Homo sapiens: one gene and its partners. The protein of the gene in region 4 purifies or fractionates together with the protein of the main gene of each other region. This does not show direct contact. Each region holds a gene or a part of one and is shown on either strand. Other genes may lie near its edges. The genes, in order: ZC3H11A, CDV3, WIPF2, TXLNG and USP3.

What was found.
Region 1: the proteins of TXLNG (region 4) and ZC3H11A fractionate together in Homo sapiens (co-fractionation; one large-scale study listed by BioGRID). This does not show direct contact.
Region 2: the proteins of TXLNG (region 4) and CDV3 fractionate together in Homo sapiens (co-fractionation; one large-scale study listed by BioGRID). This does not show direct contact.
Region 3: the proteins of TXLNG (region 4) and WIPF2 fractionate together in Homo sapiens (co-fractionation; one large-scale study listed by BioGRID). This does not show direct contact.
Region 5: the proteins of TXLNG (region 4) and USP3 fractionate together in Homo sapiens (co-fractionation; one large-scale study listed by BioGRID). This does not show direct contact.

Annotation. Positions count from the first base shown.
Region 1 is NC_000001.11:203,797,789-203,804,019, reverse strand, and holds part of ZC3H11A (zinc finger CCCH domain-containing protein 11A), read right to left. Parts: coding exon of another isoform or gene 3,558-6,231; exon of another isoform or gene 2,446-3,557; 5' UTR 1,927-2,445; coding exon of another isoform or gene 1,828-1,926; 5' UTR 1,004-1,827; intron 1-1,003. Other genes in the region: uncharacterized LOC128031836, read right to left, coding at 1,828-1,926; ZBED6 (zinc finger BED domain-containing protein 6), read right to left, coding at 3,558-6,231. UniProt on the Homo sapiens protein: Through its association with TREX complex components, may participate in the export and post-transcriptional coordination of selected mRNA transcripts, including those required to maintain the metabolic processes in embryonic cells.
Region 2 is NC_000003.12:133,582,863-133,589,093, reverse strand, and holds part of CDV3 (protein CDV3 homolog), read right to left. Parts: intron 5,093-6,231; coding exon 4,944-5,092; intron 2,532-4,943; coding exon 2,372-2,531; intron 1,936-2,371; coding exon of another isoform or gene 1,920-1,935; exon of another isoform or gene 1,199-1,919; coding exon 1,048-1,198; 3' UTR 742-1,047; coding exon of another isoform or gene 735-741; 3' UTR 1-734.
Region 3 is NC_000017.11:40,277,819-40,283,715, forward strand, and holds part of WIPF2 (WAS/WASL-interacting protein family member 2), read left to right. Parts: intron 1-366; coding exon 367-407; 3' UTR 408-5,897. UniProt on the Homo sapiens protein: Plays an active role in the formation of cell surface protrusions downstream of activated PDGFB receptors. Plays an important role in actin-microspike formation through cooperation with WASL.
Region 4 is NC_000023.11:16,835,735-16,841,742, reverse strand, and holds part of TXLNG (gamma-taxilin), read right to left. Parts: exon of another isoform or gene 4,151-6,008; coding exon 4,058-4,150; exon of another isoform or gene 2,883-4,057; intron 2,461-2,882; exon of another isoform or gene 1,923-2,460; coding exon 1,827-1,922; intron 1,299-1,826; coding exon of another isoform or gene 1,224-1,298; exon of another isoform or gene 1,181-1,223; intron 316-1,180; coding exon 1-315. UniProt on the Homo sapiens protein: May be involved in intracellular vesicle traffic. Inhibits ATF4-mediated transcription, possibly by dimerizing with ATF4 to form inactive dimers that cannot bind DNA. May be involved in regulating bone mass density through an ATF4-dependent pathway.
Region 5 is NC_000015.10:63,586,624-63,592,854, reverse strand, and holds part of USP3 (ubiquitin carboxyl-terminal hydrolase 3), read right to left. Parts: intron 5,146-6,231; exon of another isoform or gene 4,551-5,145; coding exon 4,432-4,550; exon of another isoform or gene 4,154-4,431; coding exon 4,040-4,153; exon of another isoform or gene 3,912-4,039; coding exon 3,844-3,911; exon of another isoform or gene 3,755-3,843; intron 2,195-3,754; coding exon 2,029-2,194; 3' UTR 1-2,028. UniProt on the Homo sapiens protein: Deubiquitinase that plays a role in several cellular processes including transcriptional regulation, cell cycle progression or innate immunity.

The DNA of each region.
Region 1 (6,231 bases), on a different chromosome or scaffold from region 4:
TCCCCAAAAAATAATGCACACATCGAATGTAATTCAAGTCAAAATCCCAATTAGAGTTTATTACTGGAACTTGATTATAAAATCATCTAGAATCATTATTTAAAAAGGAATGGGAGGCCAGGCATGGTGGCTCACACCTGTAATCCCAACACTGGTTGGCCAAGGCAGGAAGACTGCTTGAACCCAGGAGTTTGAGAACAGCCTGGGCAACACAGAGCAACTCCATCTCTACAAAAGGTTTTAAAAAGTAGCCAGGTACAGTGGGGCACACCTGTAGTTCCAGCTACTCAGGAGGCTTCGGCAATAGGATCTCTTAAGCCCAGGGGTTTGACGTTGCAGTGAGCTATGATCATGCCACTGCACTCCAGCCTCAGTGACAGAGCACAAGACCCTGTTTCAAAACGAAACAAAATAACCCAGTGCTTTTCTCCAAGGAGATGGAATTACAGGAAGATTTCACTTTGGCTATGCTGTTTTTACCTTTTTTACAATGTACATATATTATCAAAACAAAGAAAGAAAAACTATGGGCCAGAGGCGGTGGCTCATGCCTGTAATCCCAGCACTTTGGGAGGCTGAGGCTGGTGGATCACCTGAGGTCAGGAATTCCAGACCAGCCTGGCCAAGATGGTGAAACTTCATCTCCACTAATAATACAAAAATTATCCGGTGTAGTGGTGCACATCTGTAATCCCAGCTACCCAGGAGGCTGAGGCAGGAGAACTGCTTGAACCTGGGAGGAGGAGGTTGCAGTGAGCCAAGATGGCACCATTGCACTCCAGCCTAGGGGACAAGAGTAAAACTCCGTCTCCAAAAAAGAAAAAAAGAAAAGAAAGAAAAAAATATGTTTCCATCCCAAAACTAAAAATTTGTAAACAATTATGTACAAGCAAAAATGTCTGAACAATGGCCTTTTAATTTCTTACTGATCCATGAAAATTATGCCTTAAATGACAAGAATGTTCACTCCTTTCATGCGAAAAATGCCTGCTTCCCCACTTACATTAGCTGGTTGCTCTGAACAGGAACATCTGTGTCTTCACTGAGTTCCAATCTATTACGCCTGTAGGTCGAACCAACACTCAATCCATGAATTAATAATAATGAGGCAGAAAAAAATTTCCTCCTCACATTGCCAAGAAAACCTCTCAGCCACAATTCAAACACAGCATGTGTTTTTAAAACATCTCCCAACTACTGGGAGATTAAGTCCATTCAAATAACCTTTGTCAGACTGGAGACAGCTAGGGTTAGTTATCTCCTCAAAAACAAAACAAAACAAAACAAAAAAAAAACAAAAAAAAAGAGTTCATTTAAAGATGAACTTGAGAGTTAAAGGATCATGAAAAAAAACTCCATCTTCCATAGCTGAACAATATAATTTAAAAAAAAAACAAAAAAACATCAGTTTTTCAGTAAGATCCAATTTCTGGTCTTCAAGATTTCTTCACCTATTAAGAAAAAAACAGAAACCTTCCCCCATCTTTATTATCTGTATAATAAAAGCATACTTGTATGTAAAAATATAGTGTTTTATGTATATAATATACATACAGATATATACTAACTGGCTTATACACACACACATATACACAAAAATGTATAGAAATATAACATTTGGATAAGTTTCCCCTTTTAAAATGCACTATAAAAGACTTTAGATTTGGGTTCATTATAAAAATAAAGAACTTACTCTTATACCAAAGTATCATGAAGTTATTGTTACACTAAATTTTGCCCAGCCCACAAAATAAAGACGAAGGTAAATCCTTACACATATATCATTATGTATAATATGGATGTATGTATATATATCCATCATCGTCATCAGGGAGTGTTTAACCAAAAAAGATAGAAACGTATGGTAATAGAGTAACTACAGAGTGGTGCAGCAAGCTGTAGAAGGCAGAGCAGCATTATAGCCATTCTAAACTGGCACTGTCAAAACACAGAAAGCTTTATCTAAGGGAAAATTTATTTCTTATTTTGTATCAACACCAGTATCACTGGTTTGCCATTAAATAGTGGCCCTGGAAAGGCTTGCTTACGCAGCCTAGGTCCAAATTCTTTACTACTAATGGCTACAGCTAAAGACTTTGTAAGTATACATTTACTCCAGTTAGTAAAAGGGTAAACTTTTGGAGTTGAGATTTCATTTCACAATGGCATATTTACCATTTAAGAATTTAAAAAAAAAAAAAATCAAAACCAAAAAAAACCCGATTTTGATACATAGAAATGAGTTCTAAACTTTGAAACCAGCCCAGTAACAAAGCAATTTTGATTCTTATGTAATAAATACTACATAATTTCTAGGCTAAATCTTGCCAAATACTATCCAAGACAAAACTAAAATCAAAACTTAAAAAAAAGTGGACACCTTTTACTCACACTTAATACTAGTCAATTTTCCAGGAATTTTTTGGGCAGGGAATATCCCCAAATCTAAAATGAAAAAAAGGAAAAATTGGGATCTCACATTAGTTATTCAGTCTGAAACTTTTAATAGACTTTTACTAAAAGTCATCATTTTCTGGCCTCCTACTCAATCTCAGAAACATACTTTCAGAGTAGAAAGGGATCTTAAAATGAGATCAATTCACTCATTTCACCAATGATTCCTAACACATAAAAATACCGACTGCTTAGTTTTCATTAAGAATTCAGTGGCCAAAACAACCGCACAGTTAATACAGTATAATGGGTCATTAAGTATGTTTTTAAAAAGATTACCTAAAATTACAGAAACAATCTTTGGGAAATGTCTACTGGGTTTTTCCAAGCATGTTCAAAGGGCTCTCATTACAATTCCCATTCAACCTTTTCCAATTCTTGCAAACATTTTAGTCTGTTTTTACCCATAAATTATTTGAAAGTACCTACACAATCTATTTTTATAATATTTTATAAAGGTTAAAACAGGCATTTCAAAGACTAAAAGTATATTTTCCTAATTGTTTTCTAATATTTCCCTTTTATATAAGATCCAATTCTAAAGGGTAACACTATCACACTCAACAATTTGAAATTATAAAGCTGACCAGTATGAGGAGGCAATTAGAAATTTCCAAATATAAAACAATTTCACGGGTTTTCTTTTTGCCAAGTTGTAATTAAGCATCAGGGTTTTTAAGGAAACAGAAAAACAGGGGCAGGAGGAATGCCAGCCAGTGTACTTTTTTCTCATTTCGTTGATTTCAGAGCAATAAAATTTCCCATGGTGGGGGAAGTTTTACTTAAAACCAATTACTAGTTCAATCTACCAGGAAGAAAGCCTAAGGCCTTTCAATGCTGCACTATATTTTTTTTAATTAAAAATATCTTCTCTCTCATTGGTATAAGCAAAATTTTCAAGTGCTAGCGCCACAGTTATAGCTATGAAATCTTTAATCTTCATTTTATCAAAATTATATTGCCTCTGAGGAATTTTCAGCCCTTGTGTGATTTCAGGTTTCCCCAGATGTGTTTATAAAGATAATGATTATATTTAACAACTACAGCTATTAAGATACAGTAACACAGCAAAAAGTTGCCCATTTTAAATGGAGAAAAAGAAATTAAGGCAGTATTTCTTTTTCACTGCTTTGAACAACTTCATTCTGCTCAGGATCCCAGCTCAGAACCAACGTAGAATAATCGTAGTTAACATTTTTCAAGTTCATTTTCAGAAACATCAGTTGTTCTATATTGTCAAAGTCCAGGCTCATGATCTGTTTTGGATGAAAGTGGCTATTTTTAGTAAAGATACATTCAGATTGCCAACTACACATGGGGCAACTTAGATACTGGATGGCAACCTGGGTCAAAGCCGGCCATATGCTTATCTTCCTCTGCCAGTAAATTAAAGGGTCATCACCTCCTGAGAACTCTGAATACTTCTCTTTGAAGTACTCATCCACAACTGCTACAGCAGAAGGGAACATGAAGCTTTTGCTTCCAAGGGCAACATTGTCTACAGCTGAGCTATCAACAGAACCTGAACTGGAGGTGCCTTCTTTTAGAGATGAGGTAAATGAATCAGCTCCCACTGTAACTGAGGGACAAGAAGCTTCTGAAGTTGGAATTTGGCAGATCTCTGGTGAAGATTCCATATAATTACAGACCTCTTCTGCAAGGAACTGCTTATAAGTTTCTAAATCAGCACCTTGAGGAAAAAAGTCTTCCAAACTGTTTTTAAAGCAAGGATCTAACAAAGTAGCCAAGATACAGGGCTTGGATTTAAGCATGGCACTTAGTAGGGTATCTGTTTCAAGTTTCAGAGATAAACTATCCACCAGATTGAGGGCCTGAGTAATACCTCTGACTTGAAAATCTTCTCTGAGTTTCTGCAGGGAAAGGAGTAGATGATGGATTAGGGGTAGCACCTGATTCAATCCTGCGGTCTTCACGCTCACTTTCTGGGTAGCCTCCTCAAATGGCTTAAGAATATCACAAACATAAGTCATTAGAGTCCACTGAAGGGAGGTGAGCACAACTCCACTGGCTCTACCAAGACTATGGTGAACTGAGTAGCAATGCTCCAAGAGCCATTTTAACATATAAAAAGTAGAAATCCAATGGCCAGTTTCGTCCTGCTTCAAATTCTTCCATGGAAGTTGGTGATCATTTTGGAACTCTTGCAGTATCTGACGGGCCTTGACCGAATGACTAAAATGATGACAAGTTTTCCTGGCAGCCACTAACATATTCTCAATGCTTTTGTGCTCGCAGAAAAAGTCCTGAATGACCATATTTAAACAATGCAGGAAGCATGGCACATGGGTAAAACCACCATCTTTGATTGCATGTACCACATTAGAGGAATTGTCAGAAACAATGAAGCTAGGGATAAGGAAATTTGGAGAAAGCCACAGACCAATCTGGTCATTTAATTCTTGTAAAATATTGGTTATCAAACAGTCTTTAGCCAAACCTGTAACACAAAGCACTGCCCACTTTCTAAAATCGGGGATCCTGCCATTATTGAGAAAAGACGCAGTTTCCAAAGAAACCCAGTGTACAGTCACAATAAAATAGTCAGTGGATGGGTCATGGGTCCATATGTCAACAGTCAGGTGTATCTTTTGGCTTTGAACATTCTCTAAAGTTAAGAAAATTTTTTCTCTGACACAATCATATAACTGAGGTACAGCCTTAGTGAAAAAGTAAGTCTCTGATGGCAACCTATAATCAGGGGCCACAATCTGCATGAACCTCTGAAAGGCTGGGGTTGAGAAATAGTTGTAAGGATGCATATCCTCCACAATCATTTGGATAATTGCCTGACTTATGTGACTTGAGACTGGATTTCCACAACATGTTGTTTCTCTCTCCTGCGCACGCATCAGAGTGCCTTGCTCTGCAACGGGAATAGGACTTTCAGATCTGTTTTCAACCTCTAACATAGGTTCATCTGAATCAGAGTCACTAAGGTCCTCAGCTGTTAAATCTTGGCTGCCTGTAGACTTTTCTCCATGCAAGGTATCACTCAAGAGATCACTTCTCTCAGTCTCAGCTTCATCTAATCCATTTGCAACAGCACCACTGTCTTTGTTGGCAACAGCCCAATGGATAGGATGTGTGGCTTGCAGGTGTCGTTGAAGTGTTGAAGTCCCTAAGTGGGACCCTGGCCTACCCCGGCTCACACTTCTTTTACATATATTACACACAGCTCTTGAGATGTGCTGAGGATCAGTGTAAAAAAAATTCCAAACGGCAGATGTCTTGGCTCTAGTTCCAGGAATTAAAGCATGCTTGACAATGTTACTTTTGATGAGAAATCTCCCTCTTTCTGCCCTTAGGGCATCAGATGCTGATTTATCATGCTTCTTGCCCATTCTATTATCATCTAATGGATCAGTAGGAATATATTCAAAGCTTCCATTGCTTCCAGAAGAGGGAGATAAAGACACATCCAAGGTAAAGTCCTCCTCTCCACTAGCAACTCCAAACTTGTTGGCCCTGGTCCAATGAGGTGAATGCCTTGCTTGCAGATGTCGTTGAAGAGTAGATGTACCAAGATGGCTACCTGGTTTACCCCTGCTGACGCTTTTCTCACAGAGGTTACAAATGGCCCGCCAGGTGTACTGGGGGTCAACATGAAAGAAGTGCCACACAATGGAGGTCTTGGCTCTAGTACTAGGTAGATAGATCTGTTTTTCTATATTGCTCTCAAAAAGACTTTCTTCATCCTGCTCAGGGTCATTGGAAGCTAACAAAGCAGGGGCATCTGCAACAGGCCTCCCAGATCCC
Region 2 (6,231 bases), on a different chromosome or scaffold from region 4:
ACTGCAGTTTCCTACACAATTTAGTCCTGATTAGATGAGGCATTATAGCAGCACCTGAAGTAGAGCCTCCAGAATCCACTGCCCTTTTCATCAAAGGCTATTTGGTTCCACCCTCAGGATTGGCATACTCACGAGACATTTCACAATCCTAATGCATACTTTAGGTTACTTAATTAACCAAGCAATATGCTCTGTCAAAGAACTTATTTCAAGTCAAAGCAAAAAAGGCCTTAATGCAGAACAAAAACAAAACAAAAAAGCACTATCCAAATAAAAAAATTACCAAAAAAAAAAAACCCCCAAGATTATTCTCTCCCTTCCCCTTCCCCCACTTGGTGGACCCCAGTTTGGTTGAATTTATTTTGTGGTTACCTCAGAATACAATTAGTTTAAATTACAAATCACAGCCCTACACAGATGATCTGAACACATCAGTTCTTTTCAGCAGTGTGTTCCAGGAAGTCTAATATAACAACAGCCTACTACAGAGAGTATTCCTTAAGGGTAGGGCACAGGACAGGTTAATTAAGGTCACTTAAATCTTCATCTTTTACAGCAGATCAGAACCCAGATGGCTGACTTTTTATGCAGGATTTCTGATAAGAATCCAGTAGAGCTGGTTGCAAGGTTCACATCGACACTTAATAGTTGTAATCTTCTTATCCAGAAGTTGTGATCCACATGAAGTCCACAATGAGTGCAGCAAATCTGAGGTAGTCAACCCTTATGAAGGCTCAGTATCTGAACATAAAAAGATTTTGAAATGACCACTGGCTGCAGGTTTTGGTTTTTTGTATTTGCAGAGTAAATATGAAAGAACACTGTTGAAACTAGTTCACACATTTATGTAACAATGAAAATTCCCCTAAATCCAATATGCATAGAGCAGTCGTGACACTTTAACTTCCATAGTGCAATAGGGCCGGTCATGAAATCGAGTGGTCTGCATCGGTGTCTGTAGATCCAGCAGAGATCAGATGATGAATGGCTGTTGGTGGTGGTTAGCTGCAGTCTAGTTACCTCAGAAGGGTTAGCAAAGCCCATTCCTTAATTGTATTGTGAGTGGCTGCTTTTCTGATTTTCAAGCACAGCATATTGGTTGTCTAGCTGAAGTTTAAGGGCCTGGTTTTTTGAAACCTCATCCCTACCTCTATTTTTGTGTCTTACTACTTCAAAGCTCTTCTCCATTTCTTTATCCCTAAGGGAAAAGAAATGTAATCAGTAAATATTTCTTCTTCACTAGGGTTTTTGAAAATATTCGTCCTTGAATTTAAAAAAAAGCCACCCCTTAGAAGAATCCTGGGGAGGGGTAGGAGTGGAGGCATATAGAAAATCCTTATCAAACCATTTTAAGGCTTCAATTCAAACAGAAAACACAGAACGCTGTATTGAAGCTCTAGGGTCCTATCTTCTACTGAACAGTATTAACTGTGACCCTATTTCAGGACAAACTTGAAGAAAACTGTTAAAAGCTGTGTAATGACATTCCTCCTAAGACTCTTACTTTTAGCAAGTAATAGATAATACATCTCTCTCTTTATGCACAAGGGTAACAATTTTCTCATTCAAGTAAATTCTACTCATTAGTCAATGATTTCTCCTCACATCGATTTTGTGGGAGTGGATCTGATTAGATCAGGTAAAGAAACTCGAGTGTGGTGAATCACTGCCCTCCCAAGGTCCCTTACACATTTTTTAAGACAGAGCAGAGGAGCAAGTCCACGTGGAGGTTTAAATTCAAGCCAGCTGTGCTCTCAAAGTGGTGAAAAGGCTGGGATTTATTCTAAAAGCCACCCCAAAAAACACATTTCCATCTGATGTCATTTACATTTCTTCCCATTTTATTTATTTTAAAAAATTCATGTCCCTAAAGTAAGATGTAGATGTGCCATATGTAGTCATTTAATTCCAGGTAGCATTCATTTTAAGTACCTGCTGAAATAAGATTATTTTAATATTAGATTTATAAATGCCAACATCTTCTGTCTATAGTCACATTAACTGGGAATACAATTAAACAGCGCTTTTATATTTCTAGTTTCCATATTATAAGGAGCAAAAGCCACTTAATTATAAAAGAATTTTAACTACATTAAAACTTGTCATTGCTATAAAACAACATAAACCAGGGCTAAGATAAACTTTTGCAGACAGAAGACAAAGTGTCTCCAATGCTCTTTGCCCTCCCCCTTTCCTCCCTTCTGGACATATGAAGTCCCACCCTGATTCTCACCTGCCTGTCAGCTGAAGCTCAGGCTTTATTAGTTAAGGAGTAGTCTCTCCCTTGGGTGGGTATGCACATCCCCTATATCCCACTCCCTGGCCTAGGAACAGAAGTCCCAAACAAAATGCAATTAATTATAGTACTTACTTCCGGCTTTCTACATGCTTGGCAGTTGACTGCAGGGATGGGAACTGTGTATCACTGTAGATTTCTGGTGGTCCTTGTGGTGTTTTCCTTGTTGTGGTTAACCTGGCCCCAGGAGGCCTATACACACCACTAGTCATCGCTGGTTCTGGGGTTTCTGTAACTAATATTTTATAACAATTTTTAGATAAACTATTTAAATGCTCAGCATTTTAATAAGCTATTCTTGCATTCCCAATCATTTAACAATTATAGAAAAAACAATACCAGGGTCTCTGGGTCAGACCACAGAAGGGAATTCATTTCAGAAAATGTCTGAAAGTGAAAACAGGCTGGGCGTGGTGGCTCACGCCTGTAATCCCAGCACTTTGGGAGGCCGAGGTGGGTGGATCACCTGGGGTCAGGAGTTCAAGACCAGCTGGGCCAACATGATGAAACCCTGTCTCTACTAAAAATACAAAACTTAGCTGGGCATGATGGCAGGCACCTGTAATCCCAGCTACTCAGGGGGCTGAGGCAGGAGAATGGCTTGAACCTAGGAGGCAGAGGTTGCAGTGAGCCGATATTGAGCCACTGCACTCCAGCCTGGGCAACAGAAGGAGACTCCGGCTCTCAAAAAAGAAAAAAGAAAAGTGAAAACATTGTATTTTTCTAGGGTAGTATTCTAACTCCTCCTCCACGTACAACTTTAGTAATCTACGTAAATGATGAGTTCCACAAGCCAAATTACTGGAAGTAGAAAAGGAATCTGCTGGGCTTGGATGACTGGTCTCATCAGGGACTGCCTCTCAGAATAGGACTTTAGTCCTGTTTCCCTACCAGTAAATATGAATTACTTCTTTACCTGATTGGTGGACTGATTAAGATGCCATATGTAAAGAATTTTTTAATGAAATGCCAGTGTGGTTATTTTTTAAGATTCTAGCCAGGGCTGGGTGCAGTGGCTCAAGCCTGTAATCCTAGCACTTCGGGAAGCCCGAGGCAGGCAGATCACCTGAGGTCAGCAGTTCAAAACCAGCCTGGCCAAAATGGTGAAACCCCGTCTCTACTAAAAATACAAAGATGTAGCGGGGCATGGTGGTGCACGCCTGTAATCCCAGCTACTTGGGAGGCTGAGGCAGGAGAATAGCTTGAACCCGGGAGGCGGAGGTTGCAGTGACCCAAGATTGTGCCACTGCACTCCAGCCTGGGCAAGAGAGTGAGACTTTGTCTTAAAAAAAAAAAAGAAAAAGAAAAAAAGATTCTAGCCAGGCACAATGGCTCACGCCTGTAATCCCAGCACTTTGGGAGGCCGAGGCGGGCAGATCACTTGAAGTCAGGAGCCAGACTCTGTCTCAAACAAAACAAACAAAACAAAAAGATTCTAAAGATGATTTAAAAACATAAGACCGGGTGTGGTGACTCACACCTGCAATCCCAGCACTTTGGGAAGCTAAGGTGGGAGGATTGCTTGAACCCAGGAGTTGAAGACTAGCCTGGGCAACATAGTTAAGATCTCATCTCTACAATAAAATAAACAGGTGGCATGCCCCGGTAGTCTACTTGGAAGGCTGGGGTGGGAGGATCACTTGAGCCCAAGCAGTTGAGGGGCTGCAATGAGCCATGATTGCATGACTGCTCTCCAGCCTGGGCCAGAGTGAAACCCTGTCTCTAAAAAATATAAAAATAAAAATTTAACATAGAGTAGTTATCTGTGATTTCTGCATAACAAGATTTGGAGTGATATGTTATTCTTTATAACATTCTAAATAAAATAATGAGTATACACTTCTTTAAAGTAGTGCTCTTAAACTTTCATTATTGCCCTAAGGAGACCTTTCAGACATCTGTTTCCTAACTGCCCCCCACTCCATGAAATTTTAATACTGCGATATACTATACATCTGTTTATGCATTCTAGTCTTTTCGTGGGCCACAAATGACTGTTAAGGTATAAGATTCCTTCATTCCATAAGAAGCAACTTTTACCACCTTGAGAATGATAAAATTGGCCCTGCTGAGAATTCATGCTTCAAAGAACAGGAAAGTTAAATAGGGAATGAAAAAGACAAAGCACAAGTGAAAGACAAGGGCCCCTTGTCTTTCTGTCTTTACTCAGCTGTCAAAAATATTTTAAATGATAAAAGCTTTAGGAATTTTCTCTCTCATGAAAACTTTTGGAGTTAAACCCAACCCTAGGGTAGTTACCACTAAAAATCCTAAATGAAGCTGACCTTGGATTCTAGTAAATTAAAGTCTTTTCCTTACCTTTTCCTCCATTAGCAAGTAGTTAATATTTAACGAGAATATTAGAAGAAATGCTCAATTCCAATAAATGAAACTGGAATCGACTAGTCTATATCTATATAAATTTTACAGCAACATACAGGACAAAAGCATGTCTTTTAACTTCCAGATTCCTTTTATTTAGGATTTTAAAGTCTTTAACAAGATATATACACATCCCACTCTACCAGGAATGGAAAGGAGCCTCTCCTCCTCACCCTACCACAATCATGCACTTAGTTGAAAGTGGACCATATATAAAATCATATATAAATTAGACATCTTTCTGAAACTGAAATAGTAAAATTACCAATTACTGGAGCAGGAGGTGCTTGTACTGGAGCTGTTTTATTCCAGGGACCTGAAGATTTTTCCATACCTCCACCACCACCTCCACCTTCTTCCCAGTTATCACCTGGATCTTGTCTCTTTTCATTATCGTCTTCTTCCTTTTCACTGCTGGAAAAGCAAAGATGTAAATTCATTAAGGAATCACCAAGAAAATTTTCAGTCCAAATCGTTAGTTTTATCCATGATTATCTGTACGACCCTGAAGAAGTCAATCTCTTTCGAGACTGAACGTCTTATTTAAAAAGTGAGGCCAGGTACAGTGGCTCACACCTGTAATCCCAGGACTTTGGGAGGCCAAGATGGGTGCACCACCTGAGGTCAGGTGTTCAAGACCAGGCTGGGCAACATGGCGAAACCCATCTGTACTAAAAATACAAAAATGAGCCAGGCATGGGGGCACACACCTACAATGCCAGCTACTGGGGAAGCTGAGGCAGGAGAATCCCTTGAACCCGGAAGGCAGAGGCTGCAGTGAGCTGAGATCGTGCCACTGCACTCCCTCCTGGGCGACAGAGCGTGACTGTCTCAAAAAAATAAAAATAAAAAAAACCTGATGTGCCTCTGTGACAATATGCCTGATCATTTATAGCAGCCCCACATAAGAGCAAGACCCCAGTTACCACCTCAAGCGACTAAGGGAGGGAAGAGAGGATGATACAACCTGAAATGCAGAGAAGAAGGTGAGCTGAAGGATTAAGAGCACAATTACAAAATTTTCCTTGCACCAAAGTGTACAAACAGGCATTTAAGGTAAGCATATTTTTAGTGAGCAAATGAAGAGTTTTGAAAGTTGTATAATTTTATTTGCCAATCCTTTCGCACATAAAATACTCTCAGAATTAGAATTCACATTCCAGCAGATGAAAACAAGTCTGTGTCCAGTGTTTACAGAGGATAGAATTAGCCCCTAACACCAGACATGTATTTATCACCTGTTTAAAAAAAATATATAAGATCTCAGTCTTTGGCTTTCCAGATGTTATAAATGGAAAAGATACCCTCAGTGGTAACATACCATCTTAAGACTGCTTGCAGTATTTTCTCAATGCTAATTAATTTATTCTTGAATTGACTTGAGTCATAATCTATTTCTCCAAGGCATCTTTGATTATTTCTCTTTTTGCTGGATTACTTTTTATTATTTTGTGTAACTTTACATGTCCTAAATTACCAAGTGTATTTATCTTTTGTCTCTTGACAAAAGGGATACTGACAACAGGGATATTAAAGCACAATAATGGCTAAAT
Region 3 (5,897 bases), on a different chromosome or scaffold from region 4:
CAGGTTCAAGTGATTCTCCTGCTTAAGCCTCCCAAGTATCTAGGATTATAGGCGTGTGCCACCATGCCGGATTATTTTTGTAATTTTAGTAGAGACTGGGTTTTGCCTGGTTGGCCAGGCTGGTCTGAAACTCCTGACCTCAGGTGATCCGCCCGCCTCGGCCTCCCAAAGTGCTGGGATTACAGGCGTGAGCCACCTTGCCTGGCCACTCATCTTCATTTTCTTAGGCAAAACAATAATAACACGTAGTCCCCAGATTTTAAAGGTTAGCTTAAAGAGCCTGTCTCTCATTTTAGGAATGTGTGGGTTGTTCAGATTCTGGTGGGTGACCTGTATGTGTGTGGTCTTTATTTTGTTTTTTTTCAGCTGCCCGTGGAGCCCCACCTCTGCCACCCATTCTCAGGTGAAGCCTGGCTTGGTCCCGTTCCTCAGGAAAAGGATGGACCTTCTCTTCTTCTCAGATGGTCCCTTCCATTCCCCTGAAACCTGCATGAGAGCTCCTAACATGTTTCTCCAATGCAATCAAGCCCTAGACTCCAAATGTCCTCCCAGCTCACCTCCATCTATGCATCTCATCTCTGGATTTGGTGATCAGACTCTATATTGACAGTAGGATCTCAAACCCTGCATCCATCCTTCCTCCAGCAAGCCCTGCTAGCCACATGAGGAACAAGTTTCCGTGTCTTCTGCCTTCCTCTTGGGGAAAGGTGCCTTGTTGTGATGAATTAACTCACTGTTAGGGCAGGGTGGAGAATGGTACTCCTTCCTTCTCCTGTCCACTGTGGGGGAAGCTTGGCAGGTATATTATATTTCATCATTTAGGAGGCTGGCATGACCAGGACTTATGGGTGGGAGGGGAGCATTTTTAGTGAAGCAAGAAAGGAGTTTGCCAAGAAGTGATCTGTTTTAAAGGTCATATTTGGAGAAAGGGCAAGGAATTGGGTCTGCTTTATTTTTGGGGGTATTTTGTTTTTGTTCTCACCTGCTGCCCCCCCACCCCACCACCCCAGGGATAAATTGGATATAAACACTAAATACTAATCAGTTGAACTTAACATTTAATAAAAAGAAAGGGTGAAATAAACTGAAGACCATTTTAGAACTAGTCAGTTCTCTGCAGCAAAGGGAACAGGAGCCATTTGAACCCTCTGGGACCCCTCACCCCACTGCTTCAGGGTGCTAGGCTGAGGGATGTTTTTCCTCCCCCTTACCGCCCATGCCCTTGAAAGAAAAGTCACTTTTTGTGGAGGGCATCATTCATTCCTGATTCACAAACCCCAAAAACCTCTGGTGGGAGATAGGAAGATAGGGCGTGGGCCTGGGCCTTAACCTCAATCTTGTGTCTGCCTCAGTCTTTTCTGACTGGCCCTGAAGTTGTCAGTGGCTCTTTCTGTCCTTCAGCCCCTGGAAGGTGCTCCAGGATAACAAAGAAGGGCAGGTTGAAGCCCCTCATGGAAGGAGCTGGCTTTGTGGGGCTGCAAAGGACTTTTAAGTCCTGCCTGTACTGAAGTTCACAGCCCACCTGACTGAGCAGACTCTTCCTGTTCCTTTCTCTACCACCCTTGCCTTCCCAGGACTGCACGGTTTAACACAGCAGAGTACAGAAGGGTGAAGAAGTGAGCAGAGGCTTATGAAGATATTCAGATACTCTTCTATGCCAGGAAGCACAAAGACTTTGTTGAGATTTGCCTCAGTTCAGTAGATCTTCCTTGGCAGCCAGCCATAGGTTGTTTCTTTGTCTTCCGGGTCCTAAAGAGCACAGAGAAAATGGAGGTCCCCAGTCTAGGTAGGAAGCTGATTGGATGAGGACTTCTTTTTTTCCGACAGCAGGATGGGGCTCTTGGGCTCCACACACCAGATGCTTTGGTTTTCTACAACTGTTGCTATGTGTAGAGGGTGCTCAGAGCGTGGCATGAGAGCAAGGAGACCATGGCTACTCTTTGAAATGGATGGGGAAAATTAGCTTAAAAATTTAATCACGAGATTGCGCCACTGCACTCCAGCCTGGGCGACAGAGCCAGACTCCGTCTCAAAAAAAAAAAAAAAAAAAAAATTTAATCACACACATCACAGGCTTAAACTGTCTTAGAGACCTTTCCAGTTGATTGGATCACAGGCTAGGGATCTGTGCATGGTGCCAGGTGAAACCCAAGTCTCCCCAGTGCTAGGTGAGGGAGGGCTCAACGGGGGTAATGTGTATGGGGTCTGCTGTCCTTTGCCATCCCCTGGACCATATTAACTCTGGGACAGACCATGATTAGGTCTGTCACCAAACTTTTCCTAATCATTTTTTATGTATCATTCTTCTTTCTAATCTGTTAGCAGTTATCTCCCAGAAGTATCCCTAGCATCCTGAAGCAAACAGAACTGCCGGGCGCTGTGGCTTATGCCTGTAATCTCAGCAATTTGGGAGGCCGAGGCGGGCGGATCACCTGAGGTCAGAAGTTCGAGACCAGCCTGTCCAACATGGTGAAACCCCGTCTCCACTAAAAACACAAAAATTATCTGGGCGTGGTGGCATGTGCCTGTAGTCCCAGCTACTGGGGAGGCTGAGGCAGGAGAATCGCTTGAATCCAGGAGGTGGAGGTTGCAGTGAGTGGAGATGGCGCCACTGCGCTCCAGCCCGGGTGACAGAGTGAAACTCCATCTCAGAAAACAAACAAACCAAACAACTGAGAGAGGGCATGCTAGTGGAGGGAAAAGGAGAGAGTACAAGAGTTGATACTGCATCAGAGTTCCAGGGCAGATACTGACAAGTGACTGAACTTTGACTGTGAAGTCTTCCCATTTATTTTTGAAATGGGAGTCGATGCCTTTTGTACGTTATCAAAGTGTTTTTTTTTTTTTCCTCCTTTACTCAGACATAGAGCATCAAAATATCACGAGTAAAGCCAAACCCCAGCTTTTCACTGGGGCTGATATCTTCCTCCCCATGGCCCACTGCCCCCTCATATTCCCCAGCACTTGGACTGTGTCACATGGGTATTGATTGTATACTTGTTGTCTTGGCCTCATGCAAAAAGGCCTGGGTCTAGATCTAGTCAGATGAGTTTTTTTTAGAGCATGTTGATGATACAACACCTGTTTAAATGTCTGCCTTATATGTTATTTGGTCCCACTGTTAATAATAGATTTATTACTATGTATATTTACTATTGAAGATGGGAATGTGATCTGCATAGTTATCAGTCTATTTTGTATGTTGTAAAAAGCTTCTAATTTAGGTTTAAGGTGGGCTGGCTACAAGAGCACTAAAACTCCTCACCTTTTAAACTGCTCTTTTTATCTGCTTGTGGGAATGTCGTCTCTTTCGTGGAAGATTGGGTGGTCTCATGTTGAGGCTGTTGCCCAGTCCCATTAACTCCCTTGTCCCCCCACAGAAGGAAGAGACATTGCCCAGCTAAGCATCAGGAAGCTGTGTTAAAAGCCCTTCTATGGGTTTGGTTTTGTGATGTTTTTCCCTAATGGGAAAAACGTTATAGTTGTTTCTTACTGCCCTGTCTGGGAAGCAGGGCAAACCTCCAGGTTTTTAAATGAGCTAGATGCCCCTCTTCCTCTTCTCTGGTCACTGAACCTGGACCAAAGCACTTTGATATTCCAGGTGTGATTTTCTCTGTCATGGGGATTTGCTCCACTGCAGAGCCCCATCATTTTCACAGCGTAGGCCAACAGAGTGAGAACCTAGGGCTACCCTAGCTGATGGATGTGAGGCTGCTGTCTACAGGAGCTCATCCCAGCCCTGTTAACTGGCAGTGGCAAGGATACTCGTCATCGGCCATTGCACTGGGGAACTCCCTCACCCCATGGCTTCCCAACTTGAAACCCAGATTTACCTCCAGGGAGAGGTGAGAAAAAAATTGTAAATAGACTTGCTAAAGAGCAACTCAGGGTTGGGGTGTGTTTTAATTCTCCTGATCACTTGAAATAATCTGTAGGCTGAGTGCTTATGGGGGTGGGGGAGAAGGGTGACTCCAGGGTCCTTCCATTTTGTGAAGCTCTGGGGGTGGAGTGTGGGCATCTGAGGCCCTATGATGGCACTACATTGAGCTGTCTGCCCTTCCGGAAACCCAACCTGCAATCAACTGCAAATCAAATTCTTCACATTCCAGCTACAGTCTTTCTTTCCCCATTGAATCTCAGTCCCTGGCCATGTGGTCAAGGTGGCTTTCTGTTAAGCTACCCTAATTTCGGGAATGGGAGGGGAGAGAGGAGGGCCATTACAACTCTGCCTTCAAGACTCATCTCTTAAAAACAAAACGAAACAAAACTACAACCACCATCAAAACCACACGCAAAAAAAAAAAAAAAAAAAAAAAGGATAACTTTAACCGAAGGAAGGGTTTGGTTCCATTCAACTCCACATTCATTGTGCCTTTACTTGCATTAGATTTCTGTGCTTTCTTCCTTTCCCTCTTTGAAGCAATTAAAATCTTCCTTGATAACTGCTGTTTCTTTCTACTCTTGTTTCTGGCAATTTAGTGGGTTCCTTCTCTAGTGGTCTTAAATCTCATTCCACTGGTGGCAAGATGGGGCCTAGCCTTCTTTTCACATGTCTAATCTTTTCCTTTCTCATGGTGCCCTCCATGGAAGTCACAGTCAACACTGAATAAATGACTAGAATGACACGTGTGCGTGCGCACGCGTGTGCGTGTGTGTGTTCATCTGTCTGCATGTGGATCAATTTCTTTTAGAAAATAATTTATTGTATGATTTATTTTGGAGTTATATTCTGATTACAGTGCTCCCTCTCCCAAATAGCATTGATTTTTTCCCCCCTCTAAAATGTATAATCTGGTCTCAGGTTGGATTCTTTGGTACATTTCTCTCTTCTGGATGCCATGCAGCTTAATTAAAACCTTGCTTAAAAACAAAAAGTGAAAATTGTGTACTCTTGTCTGGAATACCGCCTCAGGTGGTGGCACAGAGAGGGGAGAAAACCTTTGCCTCATAATTTGGGTAAGTGTAGTGGTTTGATTCCAGGTCCCTTGAAAAAGTAGATCTACTGAATTGGGCAGACTCATCTATAGCTTTCTGAGGGTCTTCTCTCCTCCTCTCCAGCTGTATTTTGAAAATTACAGTTCTAGTTGGCTGGGCGCGATGGCTCATGTCTGTAATCCCAGCACTTTGGGAGGCCAAGGCGGGTGGATCATTTGAGGTCAGGAGTTCAAGACCAGCTTGGCCAACATGGTGAAACCCCGTCTCTACTGAAAATACAAAAATTAACCGGTGTCATGGCGCATGCCTGTAGTCCCAGCTACTCGGGAGGCCGAGGCAGGAAAATCACTTGAACCCAGGAGGCGGAGGTTGCACTGAGCTGAGATCATGCCACTGCACTAAAAAAAAAAAAAAAAAAAAAAAAAAAAAAAAAAAAAAATTCTAGAGTTCTAGTTACCCTTCCTGGGAGATTCTGATGGTCCTTATTTTATTATTATTATTATTTTTTTTTGAGACAGGATGTTGCTGTCATCCAGGCTGGAGTGCAGTGGTGTGATCATAGCTCACCGCAGCCTCCAACTCTCAAGCTCAAGTGATCCTCCCACCTCAGCCTCCCGTGTAGCTGGGACCACAGGTGTGTACCACTATGCCTGGCTAATTTTGAAAATTTTTTTGTAAAGACAGGGTCTCCCTATGTTGCCCAGACTGGTCTCAAATTCCTGGGCTTAAGTGATTGTCCCACCTCAGCTTCTCAAAGTGCTGGGATTACAGGCATGAGCCACCGCACCCAGCCAGTCCTTATTTTATATTTCCACCTAACTCCCCTTTGCCCACGATTTCAGGGAACCTAGGAGGCTTCCTGGCCTTGTGACCTTTTCCTTGAATCTCTTATAATTCTTTCTACCTGTGTTGCATGGCAGATTCTCAGATTGAGGCTAAAGAAAAGAAGGGTGGGGACAAAG
Region 4 (6,008 bases):
AGCAGAGCCTGTGGACGGGGGCTTTTGCACAGCGCTTCTCTGACTCTTGGGCTCAGCCTCCAGGTGCGCTCCCAGGGCTCTTTTCGAGGAAGTGTTCAGCTCCTTGTGAGAATCCAGGGCAGTACAGGGCTGCATCACAGGTGTTGCTAAATCCCTGTTCGCCGCTTTGATGGCCGCTTTGATGGATACCTGCTCTTTCAGGACTTCCACCTTCTCATTGAGCTCATTCCTTTCTGTCTGAAGAGCCCTGCACAGCTTCTCTAACCGTTCCAGTTTTATTTGAAGGGCCTTGTACTCTTTATCACGGACTGTTTTCTGTAAGAAAAAAGAGGATTTCTGTAACCCTGTTAAATATCAATCAGGTTACAAAAAAATTAAGCCAGCTCAGCCATATTGGACACTTCTCACCTATGGAACATGTTCCGTCTCTTCAGCCTCCTAACATTCTAGCTAGCTAGCATGACTGCACCCATAACTATACCGAATGAGATTTAGCATATTGTTTCAGGGGGACAAAATTAAATTCCTTTTGTCACTTTTTTTTTTTTTGAGACAGAGTCTTGCTCTGTTGCCAGGCTGGAGTGCAATGGCGTGATCTCGGCTCACTGCAACCTCTGCCTCCTGGGTTGAGGTGATTCTCCTGCCTCAGCATCCCGAGTAACTGGGACTACAGGCGCGCCCCACCACGCCCAGCTAATTTTTGTATTTTTAGTAGAGATGGAGTTTCACCATGTTGGCCAGGATGGTCTTGATTTCCTGACCTCGTGATCTGCCCGCCTTGGCCTCCCGAAGCGCTGGGATTACAGGCGTGAGCCAAAGATAAACTTTTTAAGACATTTCCTATTGAACTATTAAGGAAATTCAAGATATGACAAAGAGTAGCAGACACAAAGGCCTACATACAGAAAATGACTCACTTCTACATAGATTTCTCCTCTTCCAATTTTTAGATGAGAAGTTTGTTGTTTTTTTTGAGACAGTCTCGCTCTGTCGCCCGGGCTGGAGTGCAGTGGTGCAATCTCAGCTCACTGCAACCTCCGCCTCCCAGGTTCAAGCAATTCTCCTGCCTCAGCCTCCTGGGTAGCTGGGACTACAGGCACGTGCCACTACGCCCAGCTGATTTTTGTATTTTTAGTAGAGACGGGGTTTCACGATGTTGGCCAGGCTGGTCTCGATCTCTTGACCTCATGATCCGCCTGCGTCGGCCTCCCAAAGTGCTGGGATTACAGGCGTGAGCCACTGTGCCCAGCCGAGAACAAGGTTCTTGTACACATGTGCCCCAGCGTTTTCTTTCTTTCCTGAAGTGTTATATAAAACAGGCAAAACGTACTTTGTTGCTTTTTTTGAAAGCCTAATAAGTCAAGCTAGAAAGGCCCTACATGCTGCATCAGCATCACCTGCATGCTTGTTAGAGAGGCGGATTATCTGCCTCCGCCCCCAAGAACTAGTGACTCAGCCTCTGGGAGAAGCCCAGCAATCCTGGTCTTAACAAGCAGGCGTCTGATGCAAGCTCAAGTTTGAGAAATCACTGCTGTAGAAGAAAGCAAAATCTAGATGTTTTATGCTATCTCCGACACAAGCCTGGGCTGATTAACTGGGTGGTAGGAAGCTCAGCCCCTCACTCAGGGCCCTGTCCCTAACCTAACTGCCAGGAAAGAAGTCACAGATTCTACCCAGCAACTCATCCCCACCCCCGCCCCAACGCGGGCTGGAGTCCTCAACTATGGTAGTAGTGTTACAGCACACGTCCCCGGCCCCGATAGGTACCTGAACTCAAGGAGTCCCCATGACTAAGACTACACCTTAGTCGCAGGAAACCATCTCACCTCTTCAGCCATTTGCAGAAGTGCTTTATTATTGTTTTCCCATTTGGTACGCCAAATTATTGTTTCTTTTTCCAGTTTTTTAATTTTCTTTGTCATCTGTGAATACAATTGCACATTTAAATTCTAAGTTCCCTTCCTTATCTCTACTCCCTGTCCCAGTACACAAAAATGTTTCTGTGCCCCTCCCCTCCCCCATCCCTGCACCTCCCTCACCCAGCTGACAGCTGTGTGTGTCTTTATAGAAGTAGCTGTGCCTGCCTGTCGGTAGCAGAGCTTATCTCAGAAGCTCCTAGGGTGGAACCAAAGAAGGGGGTTTGTATTATGAGAAAAACAAATTTAATCTCCTCAATTTCAGAGGCAGCAGCACATGGAGGAAGCTGTCAGCCACCACACTCTGAACTCAGTTAAGGCTGAAGTGCAGCTTTCATCCCAGCTCCGGGTAGCGAGAGACAAGCCCTCCTTCTCCCTAAGTTGTATGAAAAAATGCCCATGACTGAGTTTTCTGTCCATTAAACGAATTCCTCAGATTCTTGGGAGGACAGCGATCTTCAGCCCCACAAGACATTAAGAACTGACACTCCACCACAACCTCCAAGAACACATCAGTTTCAGAACTCAAGGCAGCATGATTCAGGTAAGACTCCAGTGACCAAGAAGATAAAAGTAGTTAATACCTCAGCTTTGGTCATCCTCACAATTCGTGAGGCTGATTTACTTCAGATTTTGCTAAAGATAAAGTGGGTCCCCAAATCAGGGAAGTGTTAAACCTATGCTACCAGAACACAATTTTCAGAAATTCAGGATGCATTTATCCATGCCTGTAGCTAGCTACTTTCTCAATATGCCTTCATCTACTGTTGACTGCACACCAGCTCTGATCCAGGTCGGGGCATTGAGCCAGGTGGTGTTAAGGGAAACAAGGATAAGACAGAGCCAGTGCCCTGTGCCTTGGGTAATTACCCACAAAACTGTAACACAAGGCAAACCGGGACAAAGGCCATGGGAAGAGCTGGTGGAAGACCTAGGTTGACTGCTGACCCATGGTGATCTCTGCAGCCACGGACAGAGAGGAATGTGTTCCAGTCCCAGAGGACCAGAAGGATGGCAGATCCAGGAGGCGGGAACTCTCTGTTCCACCTCAACAGTGAGTCTGTGCTGGCGTCCAGCTATCACCTGCACTGTGCCTAACAGCGCCCCCTCAATTGCAGCCTCAACTGAAAGGACTGGCAGGCAGAACGAATCTGCTGCTCATGGAATTCTCCAGATTACCAGGTCTAAAAATACCTGGAGGTGGTAATTTGAGCACCAATCAGCCACATGGTAACTGAGTACATGTTAATGTGCCAAGCACTGTCTGAAATACTCTATTTCATGAAGGGCAGGTTTTTGTTACCAATTTTAACAGTGAAGGAACAGAAAGGTTTAACAATTTGTCCATAGTCACACGTTCTATGATGCAACTGGGACATTAACCCAGGGCGCACGGTCTCCACCACTATGTGAGATCTAATAATAGTCATGACTAACATCTACTGAATGCTAACAAAGTGCCAGGCACTACTGTACTTCTCCCCAACCCAACGCTATGTTTTTAAATCCCCCATTTTTAAGGGAAGGATGCCAAGTAAAATAAGGCTGGCTGGCTGGCTGGATATGCATAGAATTATATACTTTGGTCCTTAGCTTGATCTCAAGGATATCTCTTTCCTTAACATAGGCAGGAAAATGCAACAGAAGCAAAAGAATTGGTTGGGTCAGGGGAGAAAGAATTCAGTGGGAGTAAAGATAAGAAAAACAGAGAAGCTAAAAAAGGTAGAAACACTGATATATCAACCAACCAAAATATATGATTATTATTCTGGGCTTGGATGTCTTTCAATAGTTAATCTCCAAGGACACAGAGTTTTATGAGAGGGCTGAGGATGATCCTCTAAAGTGGTTAAAACAAACAAAAAACAGCAACACACCAAAAAAACCACCACTTTATTTCTAACAAGTTGCATTTAATATAGGATTTCACTATAATAAAGGTAGAATTCTAAGAGCATAGAGAACATTAGCTACTTGGGGTACATTGAGGGCAAAATGACCAAAAATGCCACTGGAGGATCACTAAAGAGAAAATGAAGACAGTATCATAACAAAGGAAACTCAGCAAAATAGTAATCACACTTAAAAGAGCTTATACAAATTCCATTTGATATACTATTCTACTAAAAATATGTAAATACCTTTTCCATTTCCTGTCTGAAGGTTGTAAACAGTTCATTGCTTTTTGCCATGGTAGTCTGGAATTCTTCAAACTTATCCATATAAAGAGAAAGCTATAGGAAAAAAAGTATGAAACATTCTGAGTTCCATGCAAACAATTCCAGTTCCCAAACTTTCAAAAGAACGTAGTATGGTTACTTATTACAAGTGATAGAAATACGAACAAATGCACATCCAATCCTTGGACACCAGACATAGATGGCTAAAGTTCTGACAACCCACAGAAATGCATTAAAACTGAGGACATTCTGTTGACTTTAATATTAGATCTCCACCCATTGGTCATAACACAGCCTGAAGGATGTGGTGACTATAAACGTCATGCATGTGGAGTGCTCGCCCAACTACCCCTCTCCTGCCAAGTGAAAACTGTCCTTGGGAAAAGATCATTCCTTTAGAATACCACCTGCAGAGTTCTTAGTTTGATAGCAATGGTATCTCTTTCCTTAACGAAGGGAGGAAAATGCAACAGAAGCCAAAGAATTGGTTTGGTTGGGGAAGAAGAATTCGGTGAGAGTAAAATTAAAAGAAAACGTAAAGAGATCTACTCTTAACATAGTCCTACCCTCAAGGAATTTTTATTTAAGGATGAGGGAAAAATGCTAACCAACAAGGCAAGCAAAATATAAAATGGAGTCACCATCTTCTCCCCCTTAGAAAGGAGTCCAGAGAAGTATACGGGGAAGGGCACACTGAGGCTCAGGATACTTAGGGGAAGCTTCATGTGGGAGGCCTGAGCTGGCCCTCATAGGTGAGCTGAATGAGTTCATCTTAGACCAGGAGGGAACCTTTCAGAGACTATCCAACATAATCACATTATTTTCAGGATAGGGGAACAGAGAGAGACCCAGAGGAATAAAGTATTTTGGGCAAGATCACACGATAGATATAAGAAAAGCAGAGAAGAATAAAGGATCTTCAGAGGCCAAGAAACAGCATAAGCAGTGCTGGATGCAGAATATTCACCAGCACCACCTAGCGCACAGGATGCAGGGCAGGGTGGAATATGATGGTGCCCGCCCAGCCACAGCCAGCAGGGGGACGGGCCATCCCGGAAGCACTTAAGCAGCACGCACTGTGGTGTGGTGGACGCAGAAGCCAACTGAAAGTTAGTCATCTCACAGTGACCTTGTGCTTGTTAGGCTAGACGAGGTCCCTGTGAGATGGCCAAGCCACATCTGCACAAGGGCCTGGCCTGGGATGAGGACAAAGCAGGAAGAGAAATGCAGGGTGACCTGGAGAACACACAGGATTTGTTAGCAGACACTGACGGGGCCTCTGACATGACAGGCCTGGAGTTGGGGCAAGAGTGGTGCTCACGCAGAGGGAGGGAGCAGTATTAGTGCCTGAGGGACATTAGAAGTTACAGCAGTTTTGATGTGGTCCTTTAGGGTCTCACTCTGTCGCTCAGGCTGGAGTGCAGTGGCGCAATCACGGCTCATTGCAGCCTCGACCTCCCTCTTGGGCTCAAGCAATCCTCCCATCTCAGCCTCCTGAATAGAGGGGACTGTAGGCACACACCACCACACCTGGCTAATTTTTGTATCTTTTATAGAGATGGGGTTTCACCATGTTGCTCAGGCTGGTCTCAAACTCCTAAGCTCAAGCGATCCGCCCGCCTTGGCTAGGATTACAGGCATGAGCCACTGCGCCTCGCAGGCACAGTCCACTTTTATTGAAAATGGAACATCCAAATAAAGACTGTCCCATGTGAGAGTTCAGTGCTGGCCCAGTGGGTAGCCAATAAGTGGCCACTATTATCACACATGGACCTCCATGGCTAGATTACAAAACAGCGGGTGAAGACAGCACAAAGACTTTGAGTTACACCAGCAGATGCTGGGAAATGACATGGTGAGGGCAGAGAAGGTGAGACATGCTTGGGAAGGACAGCCACATTTAGAGGAAAAC
Region 5 (6,231 bases), on a different chromosome or scaffold from region 4:
GAAATGGAGCTACATCTGCTCCCACAACTTCAGATATCCAACCTGAGGGAAAGCCACCAGACTGTTTTTATATCATAAACTTAAAAAAAAAAAAAGGTCAAGATGTTTTTAATAGAACAGGCTGGGCGTGGTGGCTCATGCCTGTAATGCTAGCACCTTGGGAAGCCAAGGTGGGTGGATCACTTGAGCCCAGGAGTGCAAGACCAGCCTGGGCAACGTGGTGAAACCCCATCTCTAGTAAAAATATTAAAAATTAGCTGGGTGTGGTGGTGCCAGCTACTTCGAGGCTGAAGTGGGAGGATCGCTTGAGCCTGGGAGGTTGAGGCTACAGTGAGCTGTGATCATGCCACACTGCACTCCAGCCTGAGGGACAGAGTAAGACTCCATTAAAAAAAAAAAAAAAAAATTGCCAGAAAGTCTCGTTGGCTTAACACAAGATACATTTTGTCCCTTGTGGAGAATTGGTAGGCTATGTCTACCAACCCCCACCGCCCCCAACCAAAAAAAAGAAAAAAAAAAAACCACCACAGGACTGTCTTAGAACACTTGTAGAAACCACAACTGCTTTCTTTAAATGGGATTCTGGTTCCAAATTTGAATCTTTGAGTTAAATCTGTTTTTTAAAAACAAAACTGTCTGGGCGTGATGGCTCACGCCTGTAATCTCAGCACTTTGGGAGGCTGAGGCAGGCGGATCACCTGAGGTCAGGAGGGAGGTTGAGACCACCCTAGCCAACATGGTAAACCCCCGTCTTTACTAAAAATACAAAAAAAAAATTAGCCAGGTGTAGTGGTGGGCACCTGTAATCCCAGCTACTCAGGAGGTTGAGGCAGGAGAATTGCTACTCGGGAGGCCGAGGTTGCAATGAGCTGAGATCGTGCCACTGCACTCCAGCCTGGGCAACAGAGAGAGACTCTTGTCTCCAAAAACCCCCAAAAAACAAAACGAAAACTCCACTTACTTACTCCAACAGTATTTTCAACTTGTCCTATCAATCAGGATAGGCCAGAGAGAGGTGTTAAAACCCAGAGCAGCGAAGATTCTAAATTTCCTCCTGTGGAAGCACACCCCCCAGTGATAAACTGAAGTGCGGGTGATGATCCAAGTAAATCCCAGAGGGTCACACCTCAGACTCAGATGCCAAACACAAGCAGTAAGTAAGTCTATAATGGACATGTCGTGACTTCCAGTGGTACAACTAAGGGGGAATGAGATACTGATTCAAAAGGAGGCAGACGCCATGGCTTTACCTCACTGGTAACACCTATACCATGTCAGTGAGTCACAGCATTTTTTTTAAACATTACATGTATTTGGTCTTTACTCCCATCTTACCTCCCCGCAAACAAGTATGCCCCAAAACCAAAAAAACCAACAAAGAGAGTAATTCTTGTATTTGCAGGACAAGTACAACTGAACCAACAAATTTATTTAGTTAGTGCTGATAAAGACAGCAGCCTTGAGAGACAAGCAGTAATTACCTGGTCTACTTAATGATGCCCTTTGTTATATTTTACAGGCAAAAAGAATGATTCCTCAGCAGTCATTGTGAAATTTTGTGGGCCACAAGTATTGTGCACACATGATCCTTGATTTAGAGTCAACCTGATGTCCATTATAGCTGTGGAAAGGCAGCAGGCAGTTGTGTCGCTCTTCACAATAAGGAACACATCTTGCTTTCAGCATGTGAGAGGAACAAAAGCATTGATGTAAATGTGCCTCAAAGTGAGAACTGAAAACATTAACATAAAATAAAAAAGTCAAATAAGACTAAGTTCTTACAACTACCTATAAAAATTGAATTATTACAACTAAAGCAGCAAATCAAAACATCTGCTGAGGTTTTCTGGTAGAACAACAACAAAATTAGTTGGTGCCCATGTTCAGTAAGTCACTACCATTGACAAAACTAAATCCAAAATAGGAAATTGAAAAGTGCATAATGAAATTAAATCTTGTATCAAGTATTTGTGGAAAACTGGAAATGTTTCTCTGGTATGGTTGGTGAATGATGATTTGGAGGAGGTATTAAAGTTTATCCGATCCAGCTTTGGCCTGGTGTTCCACGTAGAAAAGGATGTAGGCCTTCGCCTTCACCACAGTCTCCTCGTCAGTCAGTGTTACAGTACTGTCATTGAAGTGGAACCAGCGGCCTTCGTGAGTTGCGTATGCTGTGTAATGTCCAGAACCAACCCTGTAAAGGCAAAAGACCAAAGGAAAAAAGAACCTCAGAAATCACAAAAAGACCTGTACAACTATATAATGTTAGATTTAAATTTTAATAAGAATACATCCTAGACTTTTGATTTAAGATGCTTGTTAAATTAATGTTTTTACCTTCCTCCAAACTGACCAGAAATCGAGGGTTTGCTAGAACACAAAGCAGATGGCCCTGGACTAATGGAGAAAACAGAGATGAGGAACTCGCAACCTAACAAGCACAGGTCAAAGCCTACGGAAACATGGAAAACTAGGTACCAGGTTTTCCCATCAGAATCTTAGGAAAAAACTAAGCTTAACAAAGAAGGGCACCCTTCCCTGACACCGTGGTCATCAGGGGCTCTACCCTATCAGCATGACCCACCCACTCACACACACAACCCTGGAGTCAGTCCTCCAAGTCAGACGGAAGGCCTGCAGCTAGAACAGACCTTTGTAGGTGCCAGGAAAACCCTATTTAAATAATAAAGATCCATCTCATCATTTACTATGATTCCAAATAAACCACCAAAACCAAATTTTAAAAACAAGCCTTTTGCACGCCTACAAAATCACATTTTTGAGGGGAAAGAAATACCGGGAAGAACAAGCAAGGCAATCAACCCTGAGGAATTGAATGCAGAAAACCTAAGAGAACTTTACATTTTTAAATTAGTGCTAATAGTTTCAAAAAGATAGTGCAATCATAAAACAAGAATAGGCTGTTACGAAAAAGTTGTCAGAAAAATGTGACTGATTTAATATAAATATTTTATGGAGGAGCTTATCTTTTATTTGGATACAGATGAAACCCAAATTGGTGATTTGGAAAAGTAGGCCATGGCAGTCTTTAGAAACACAGACAGAAATCATTAGAGTATTTAAGACATGTGGAAGGGAGATCCAGGAAATTCACTATGCATATAATAGGGGTACAGAGAACAAATGATTTCAGACCTACAGTATAGAGAGTTTCATGAGCTGAAGGCACCAAATTAAAAGTGTCCCTACCAACTACCAAGCAGGAATACACTCCAAGGAGAAAAAAGCCAGGTGCCTGTAAAGTAGTGAGAATCAGACTTGTCATTCATAACACTATGTGAGTGTAGACGTTACTTTATCACAGCTCTGCGGGAAAAGGATTTTCAACATGGATAGTCGTCTGCCCACATATAGTAGTCTTAAGTTTGAAGGTAAAATAGCCACTCTCAAACCAAAAACCAGAAGGTTAGACCCCTCATACAAACTTTCAGGGGAAAAAATTAATGTTTTTTAACAAGACTTAAAATGAGTCTTTAAAGTAGATGATATGGAGTAAGTTATTCCAAGTAATTTCCCCTTTTGCCCCATTTAAATTTCAGTTGGTAAACGAATAAGCAACTTTGGAGTTTGTGGACAAATAAAGACTGGGTCGTAAATACTGGGTTCAAATGAACCATTCTTCATTTCACTTTTATTTACCTTCCCTTAAGCCTTCACAACATCATCTGAGGAGTACTCTTCCGCACCAAAACTGAAGGAAATTTCACCTACTTTATCTGAATCCATTTTTTAGGAAGAACTAGCAAGAGTGGTACAAAACTGCAGGTCATTGGGCTGGCCACCAGGTATTCCCACCCACCAGAAGCTGGCTGTTGTACTCACCCGGAACCATGGTGCACCACCACAGCGGCGAGGTCATACAGGCAGCTCTCCGGGCCACTGTTCTCAGGCTACAGAACAAGGAAGAAGGAGCAGTGGTCAATGACATCAGTATCTCGATGACCTCTACCCTCTCCATGTGATGACAATCTTACTGAAGAGCCATTTTTTCACCATGCTAAAAAGGTAACCACCTTACCTCTAGTAAGTAGCATTTCATGTCTAGGCCTCTCAGTGGAAATTCTACGTATGTATCAACTTTATTTCTTAAATATGCTGTCCAATGAAATCTTTTCAAATGTAAGCATAGCACCTGGAGGACAGAGATGCGGTCAAAGATTGTGAACACCTAATTTACCTTTCAGTCAAAGTTTGATACTACTATCAGTTCAGTAAATAACATTTTAGCTGCCCTATCAATCATTCTTCCATGCATACCTTATGCATTCATTCTGTAAGGGGTTTAGCTTTTACTGAAAATCCTAGAGAAAAATACAGAACAGTTCACATAGTGTAAAGTTATAGACATGGTCTTAGCAGTCAAGCACTTTCCCATTGAAATTGCTTCATAACTCAAAATTCAACACTCACCTTGGGTAGTTTTTGAATCCAAAACTTTTTTGTGGACTTTTGTTTCTTTTTGCATTTATGGCACATATATAACTCTGTCTCATCAAGTTCTTCTAAGTCGGTAAAACTGCGAAGACAATCTAAACAAATTGATTTTGGCAGCATTAAAACAAGATGCCTTTTGTAGAGGCAATGTACTGTAGAAAAAAGACCCAGGTTTAAAATCTCAGCTTTATTAGCTATACGACCTTAGAAAAGTTAACCTTTCTCAATTGCAAACTGGAGACAAAAAATAATACCTACTTTGAAGAACTATTATAAGGAAGAGAAATAATGTGTAGAGCACCTGGCATCATGCCTGACATCTGGTGATGATCAATTGTGTTGGTTTTACTATTAATGATAATTCATCTGGATAATTCTGATAAAATGGTTTCCTGATGAATTTAAAGTTTCAATTGTAGTTTTCTGTCAATATGTTACATTATACAGGACAAAGCTCCAAACTCATAAAAAAAAGTCAAATTTAGATAATTTAAAAATAAACATAGATCACAGAAGGCTACACTATCAACCTTCTCTGTCCAGACGCTGTACTCTCAGTTCCTAGATAAATCACAGCTACATTTTTTTTCATTTAAAGATGTAATTGTGTAACCTGGGGTTTAGTAAACTACAGTCCTAAAACATCCAGCCAGCCACCTGGTTTTGTAAATAAAGTTTCATTGGAACAGAGCCATGCCCACTTGTTTACATTATTGTCTGGCTGCTTTTACACTACACCAAACTGAGTCACTGGGGCAGAGACCTTATGTGGTGCAAAGCCTAAAACACTGTAAATCTTCACTTAATATCATGACAGGTTCTTGAAAATTGTGACCTTATGTGAAGCAACGATAAACCACTTTTTTCTCATCAATGTTATAACTAAACGTTAAAGGAAACTATTATTGGAGGACCTGCTGTATGTCATTTTGCTTTAAACTTGCAGTTTCCAAGAACCTACTGATGACATTAAATGAAGACTTACTGTATTTACTCTTTGGCCCCTGTGCCAATTCCTGATGCAATCAGATATTCATAAATCTATATAAAATACACGTTATTCTGTAGAAAAAATATGAATGCCTATGGACCCCACACTTGGATTTTCTCGAGTACTCAAGGAGCCAGGGTCTCTGTGCACGGCCTCTCCTAGAGTTGTGCAGTGGACAACCTGTGTGGCCATGTGCTTCTTACCAAAGATAATTCCCCTTCCTCTGCCCAGAAGTAGCCATTATCCTGACTTTTATGTCATTTGTCTTTATAGAACATGTATGTATCTTTAAATAATATATTAAAGTTGGGTAGCAAGCAGAAACCTAGCTGTGTACAGAAAAGCGCTCTTGTCTCTGTACTCAAGTTTCCAAGCCATAGTCAGCCTTTGTGTCCGCGACAGTAGCAGACAGCGCCCCTTCAGGGAAAGTTAGTGGAGGCAAGGTGTGGCAGAGGACTAGACAGTCTTGAATATGCCTTTGTTGCCTGATCCTAGTACCTAGAAGGCACATTCCTATGCCTGCCTCCCTACAACTCAATTCTCGCCTCCCTGCAACTCAATTCAATTCTCACTTCTTTGAGACTTTCTCAACCTCCAGTGGACAGTTAACCATTCTTTCCTCAATTTCCCACAAATACTACATTGCCAACCTGCTCAACCTGCTATTTTATGTCAGTGATGGTTCCTGGGAAAGGATGTATTATATTTTGACATTACAATTCCTGAAGCAAGTCTCAGACATTACAACCAAACTTGCAAATAGAGTGATGCTGTTCTCAGGAGCC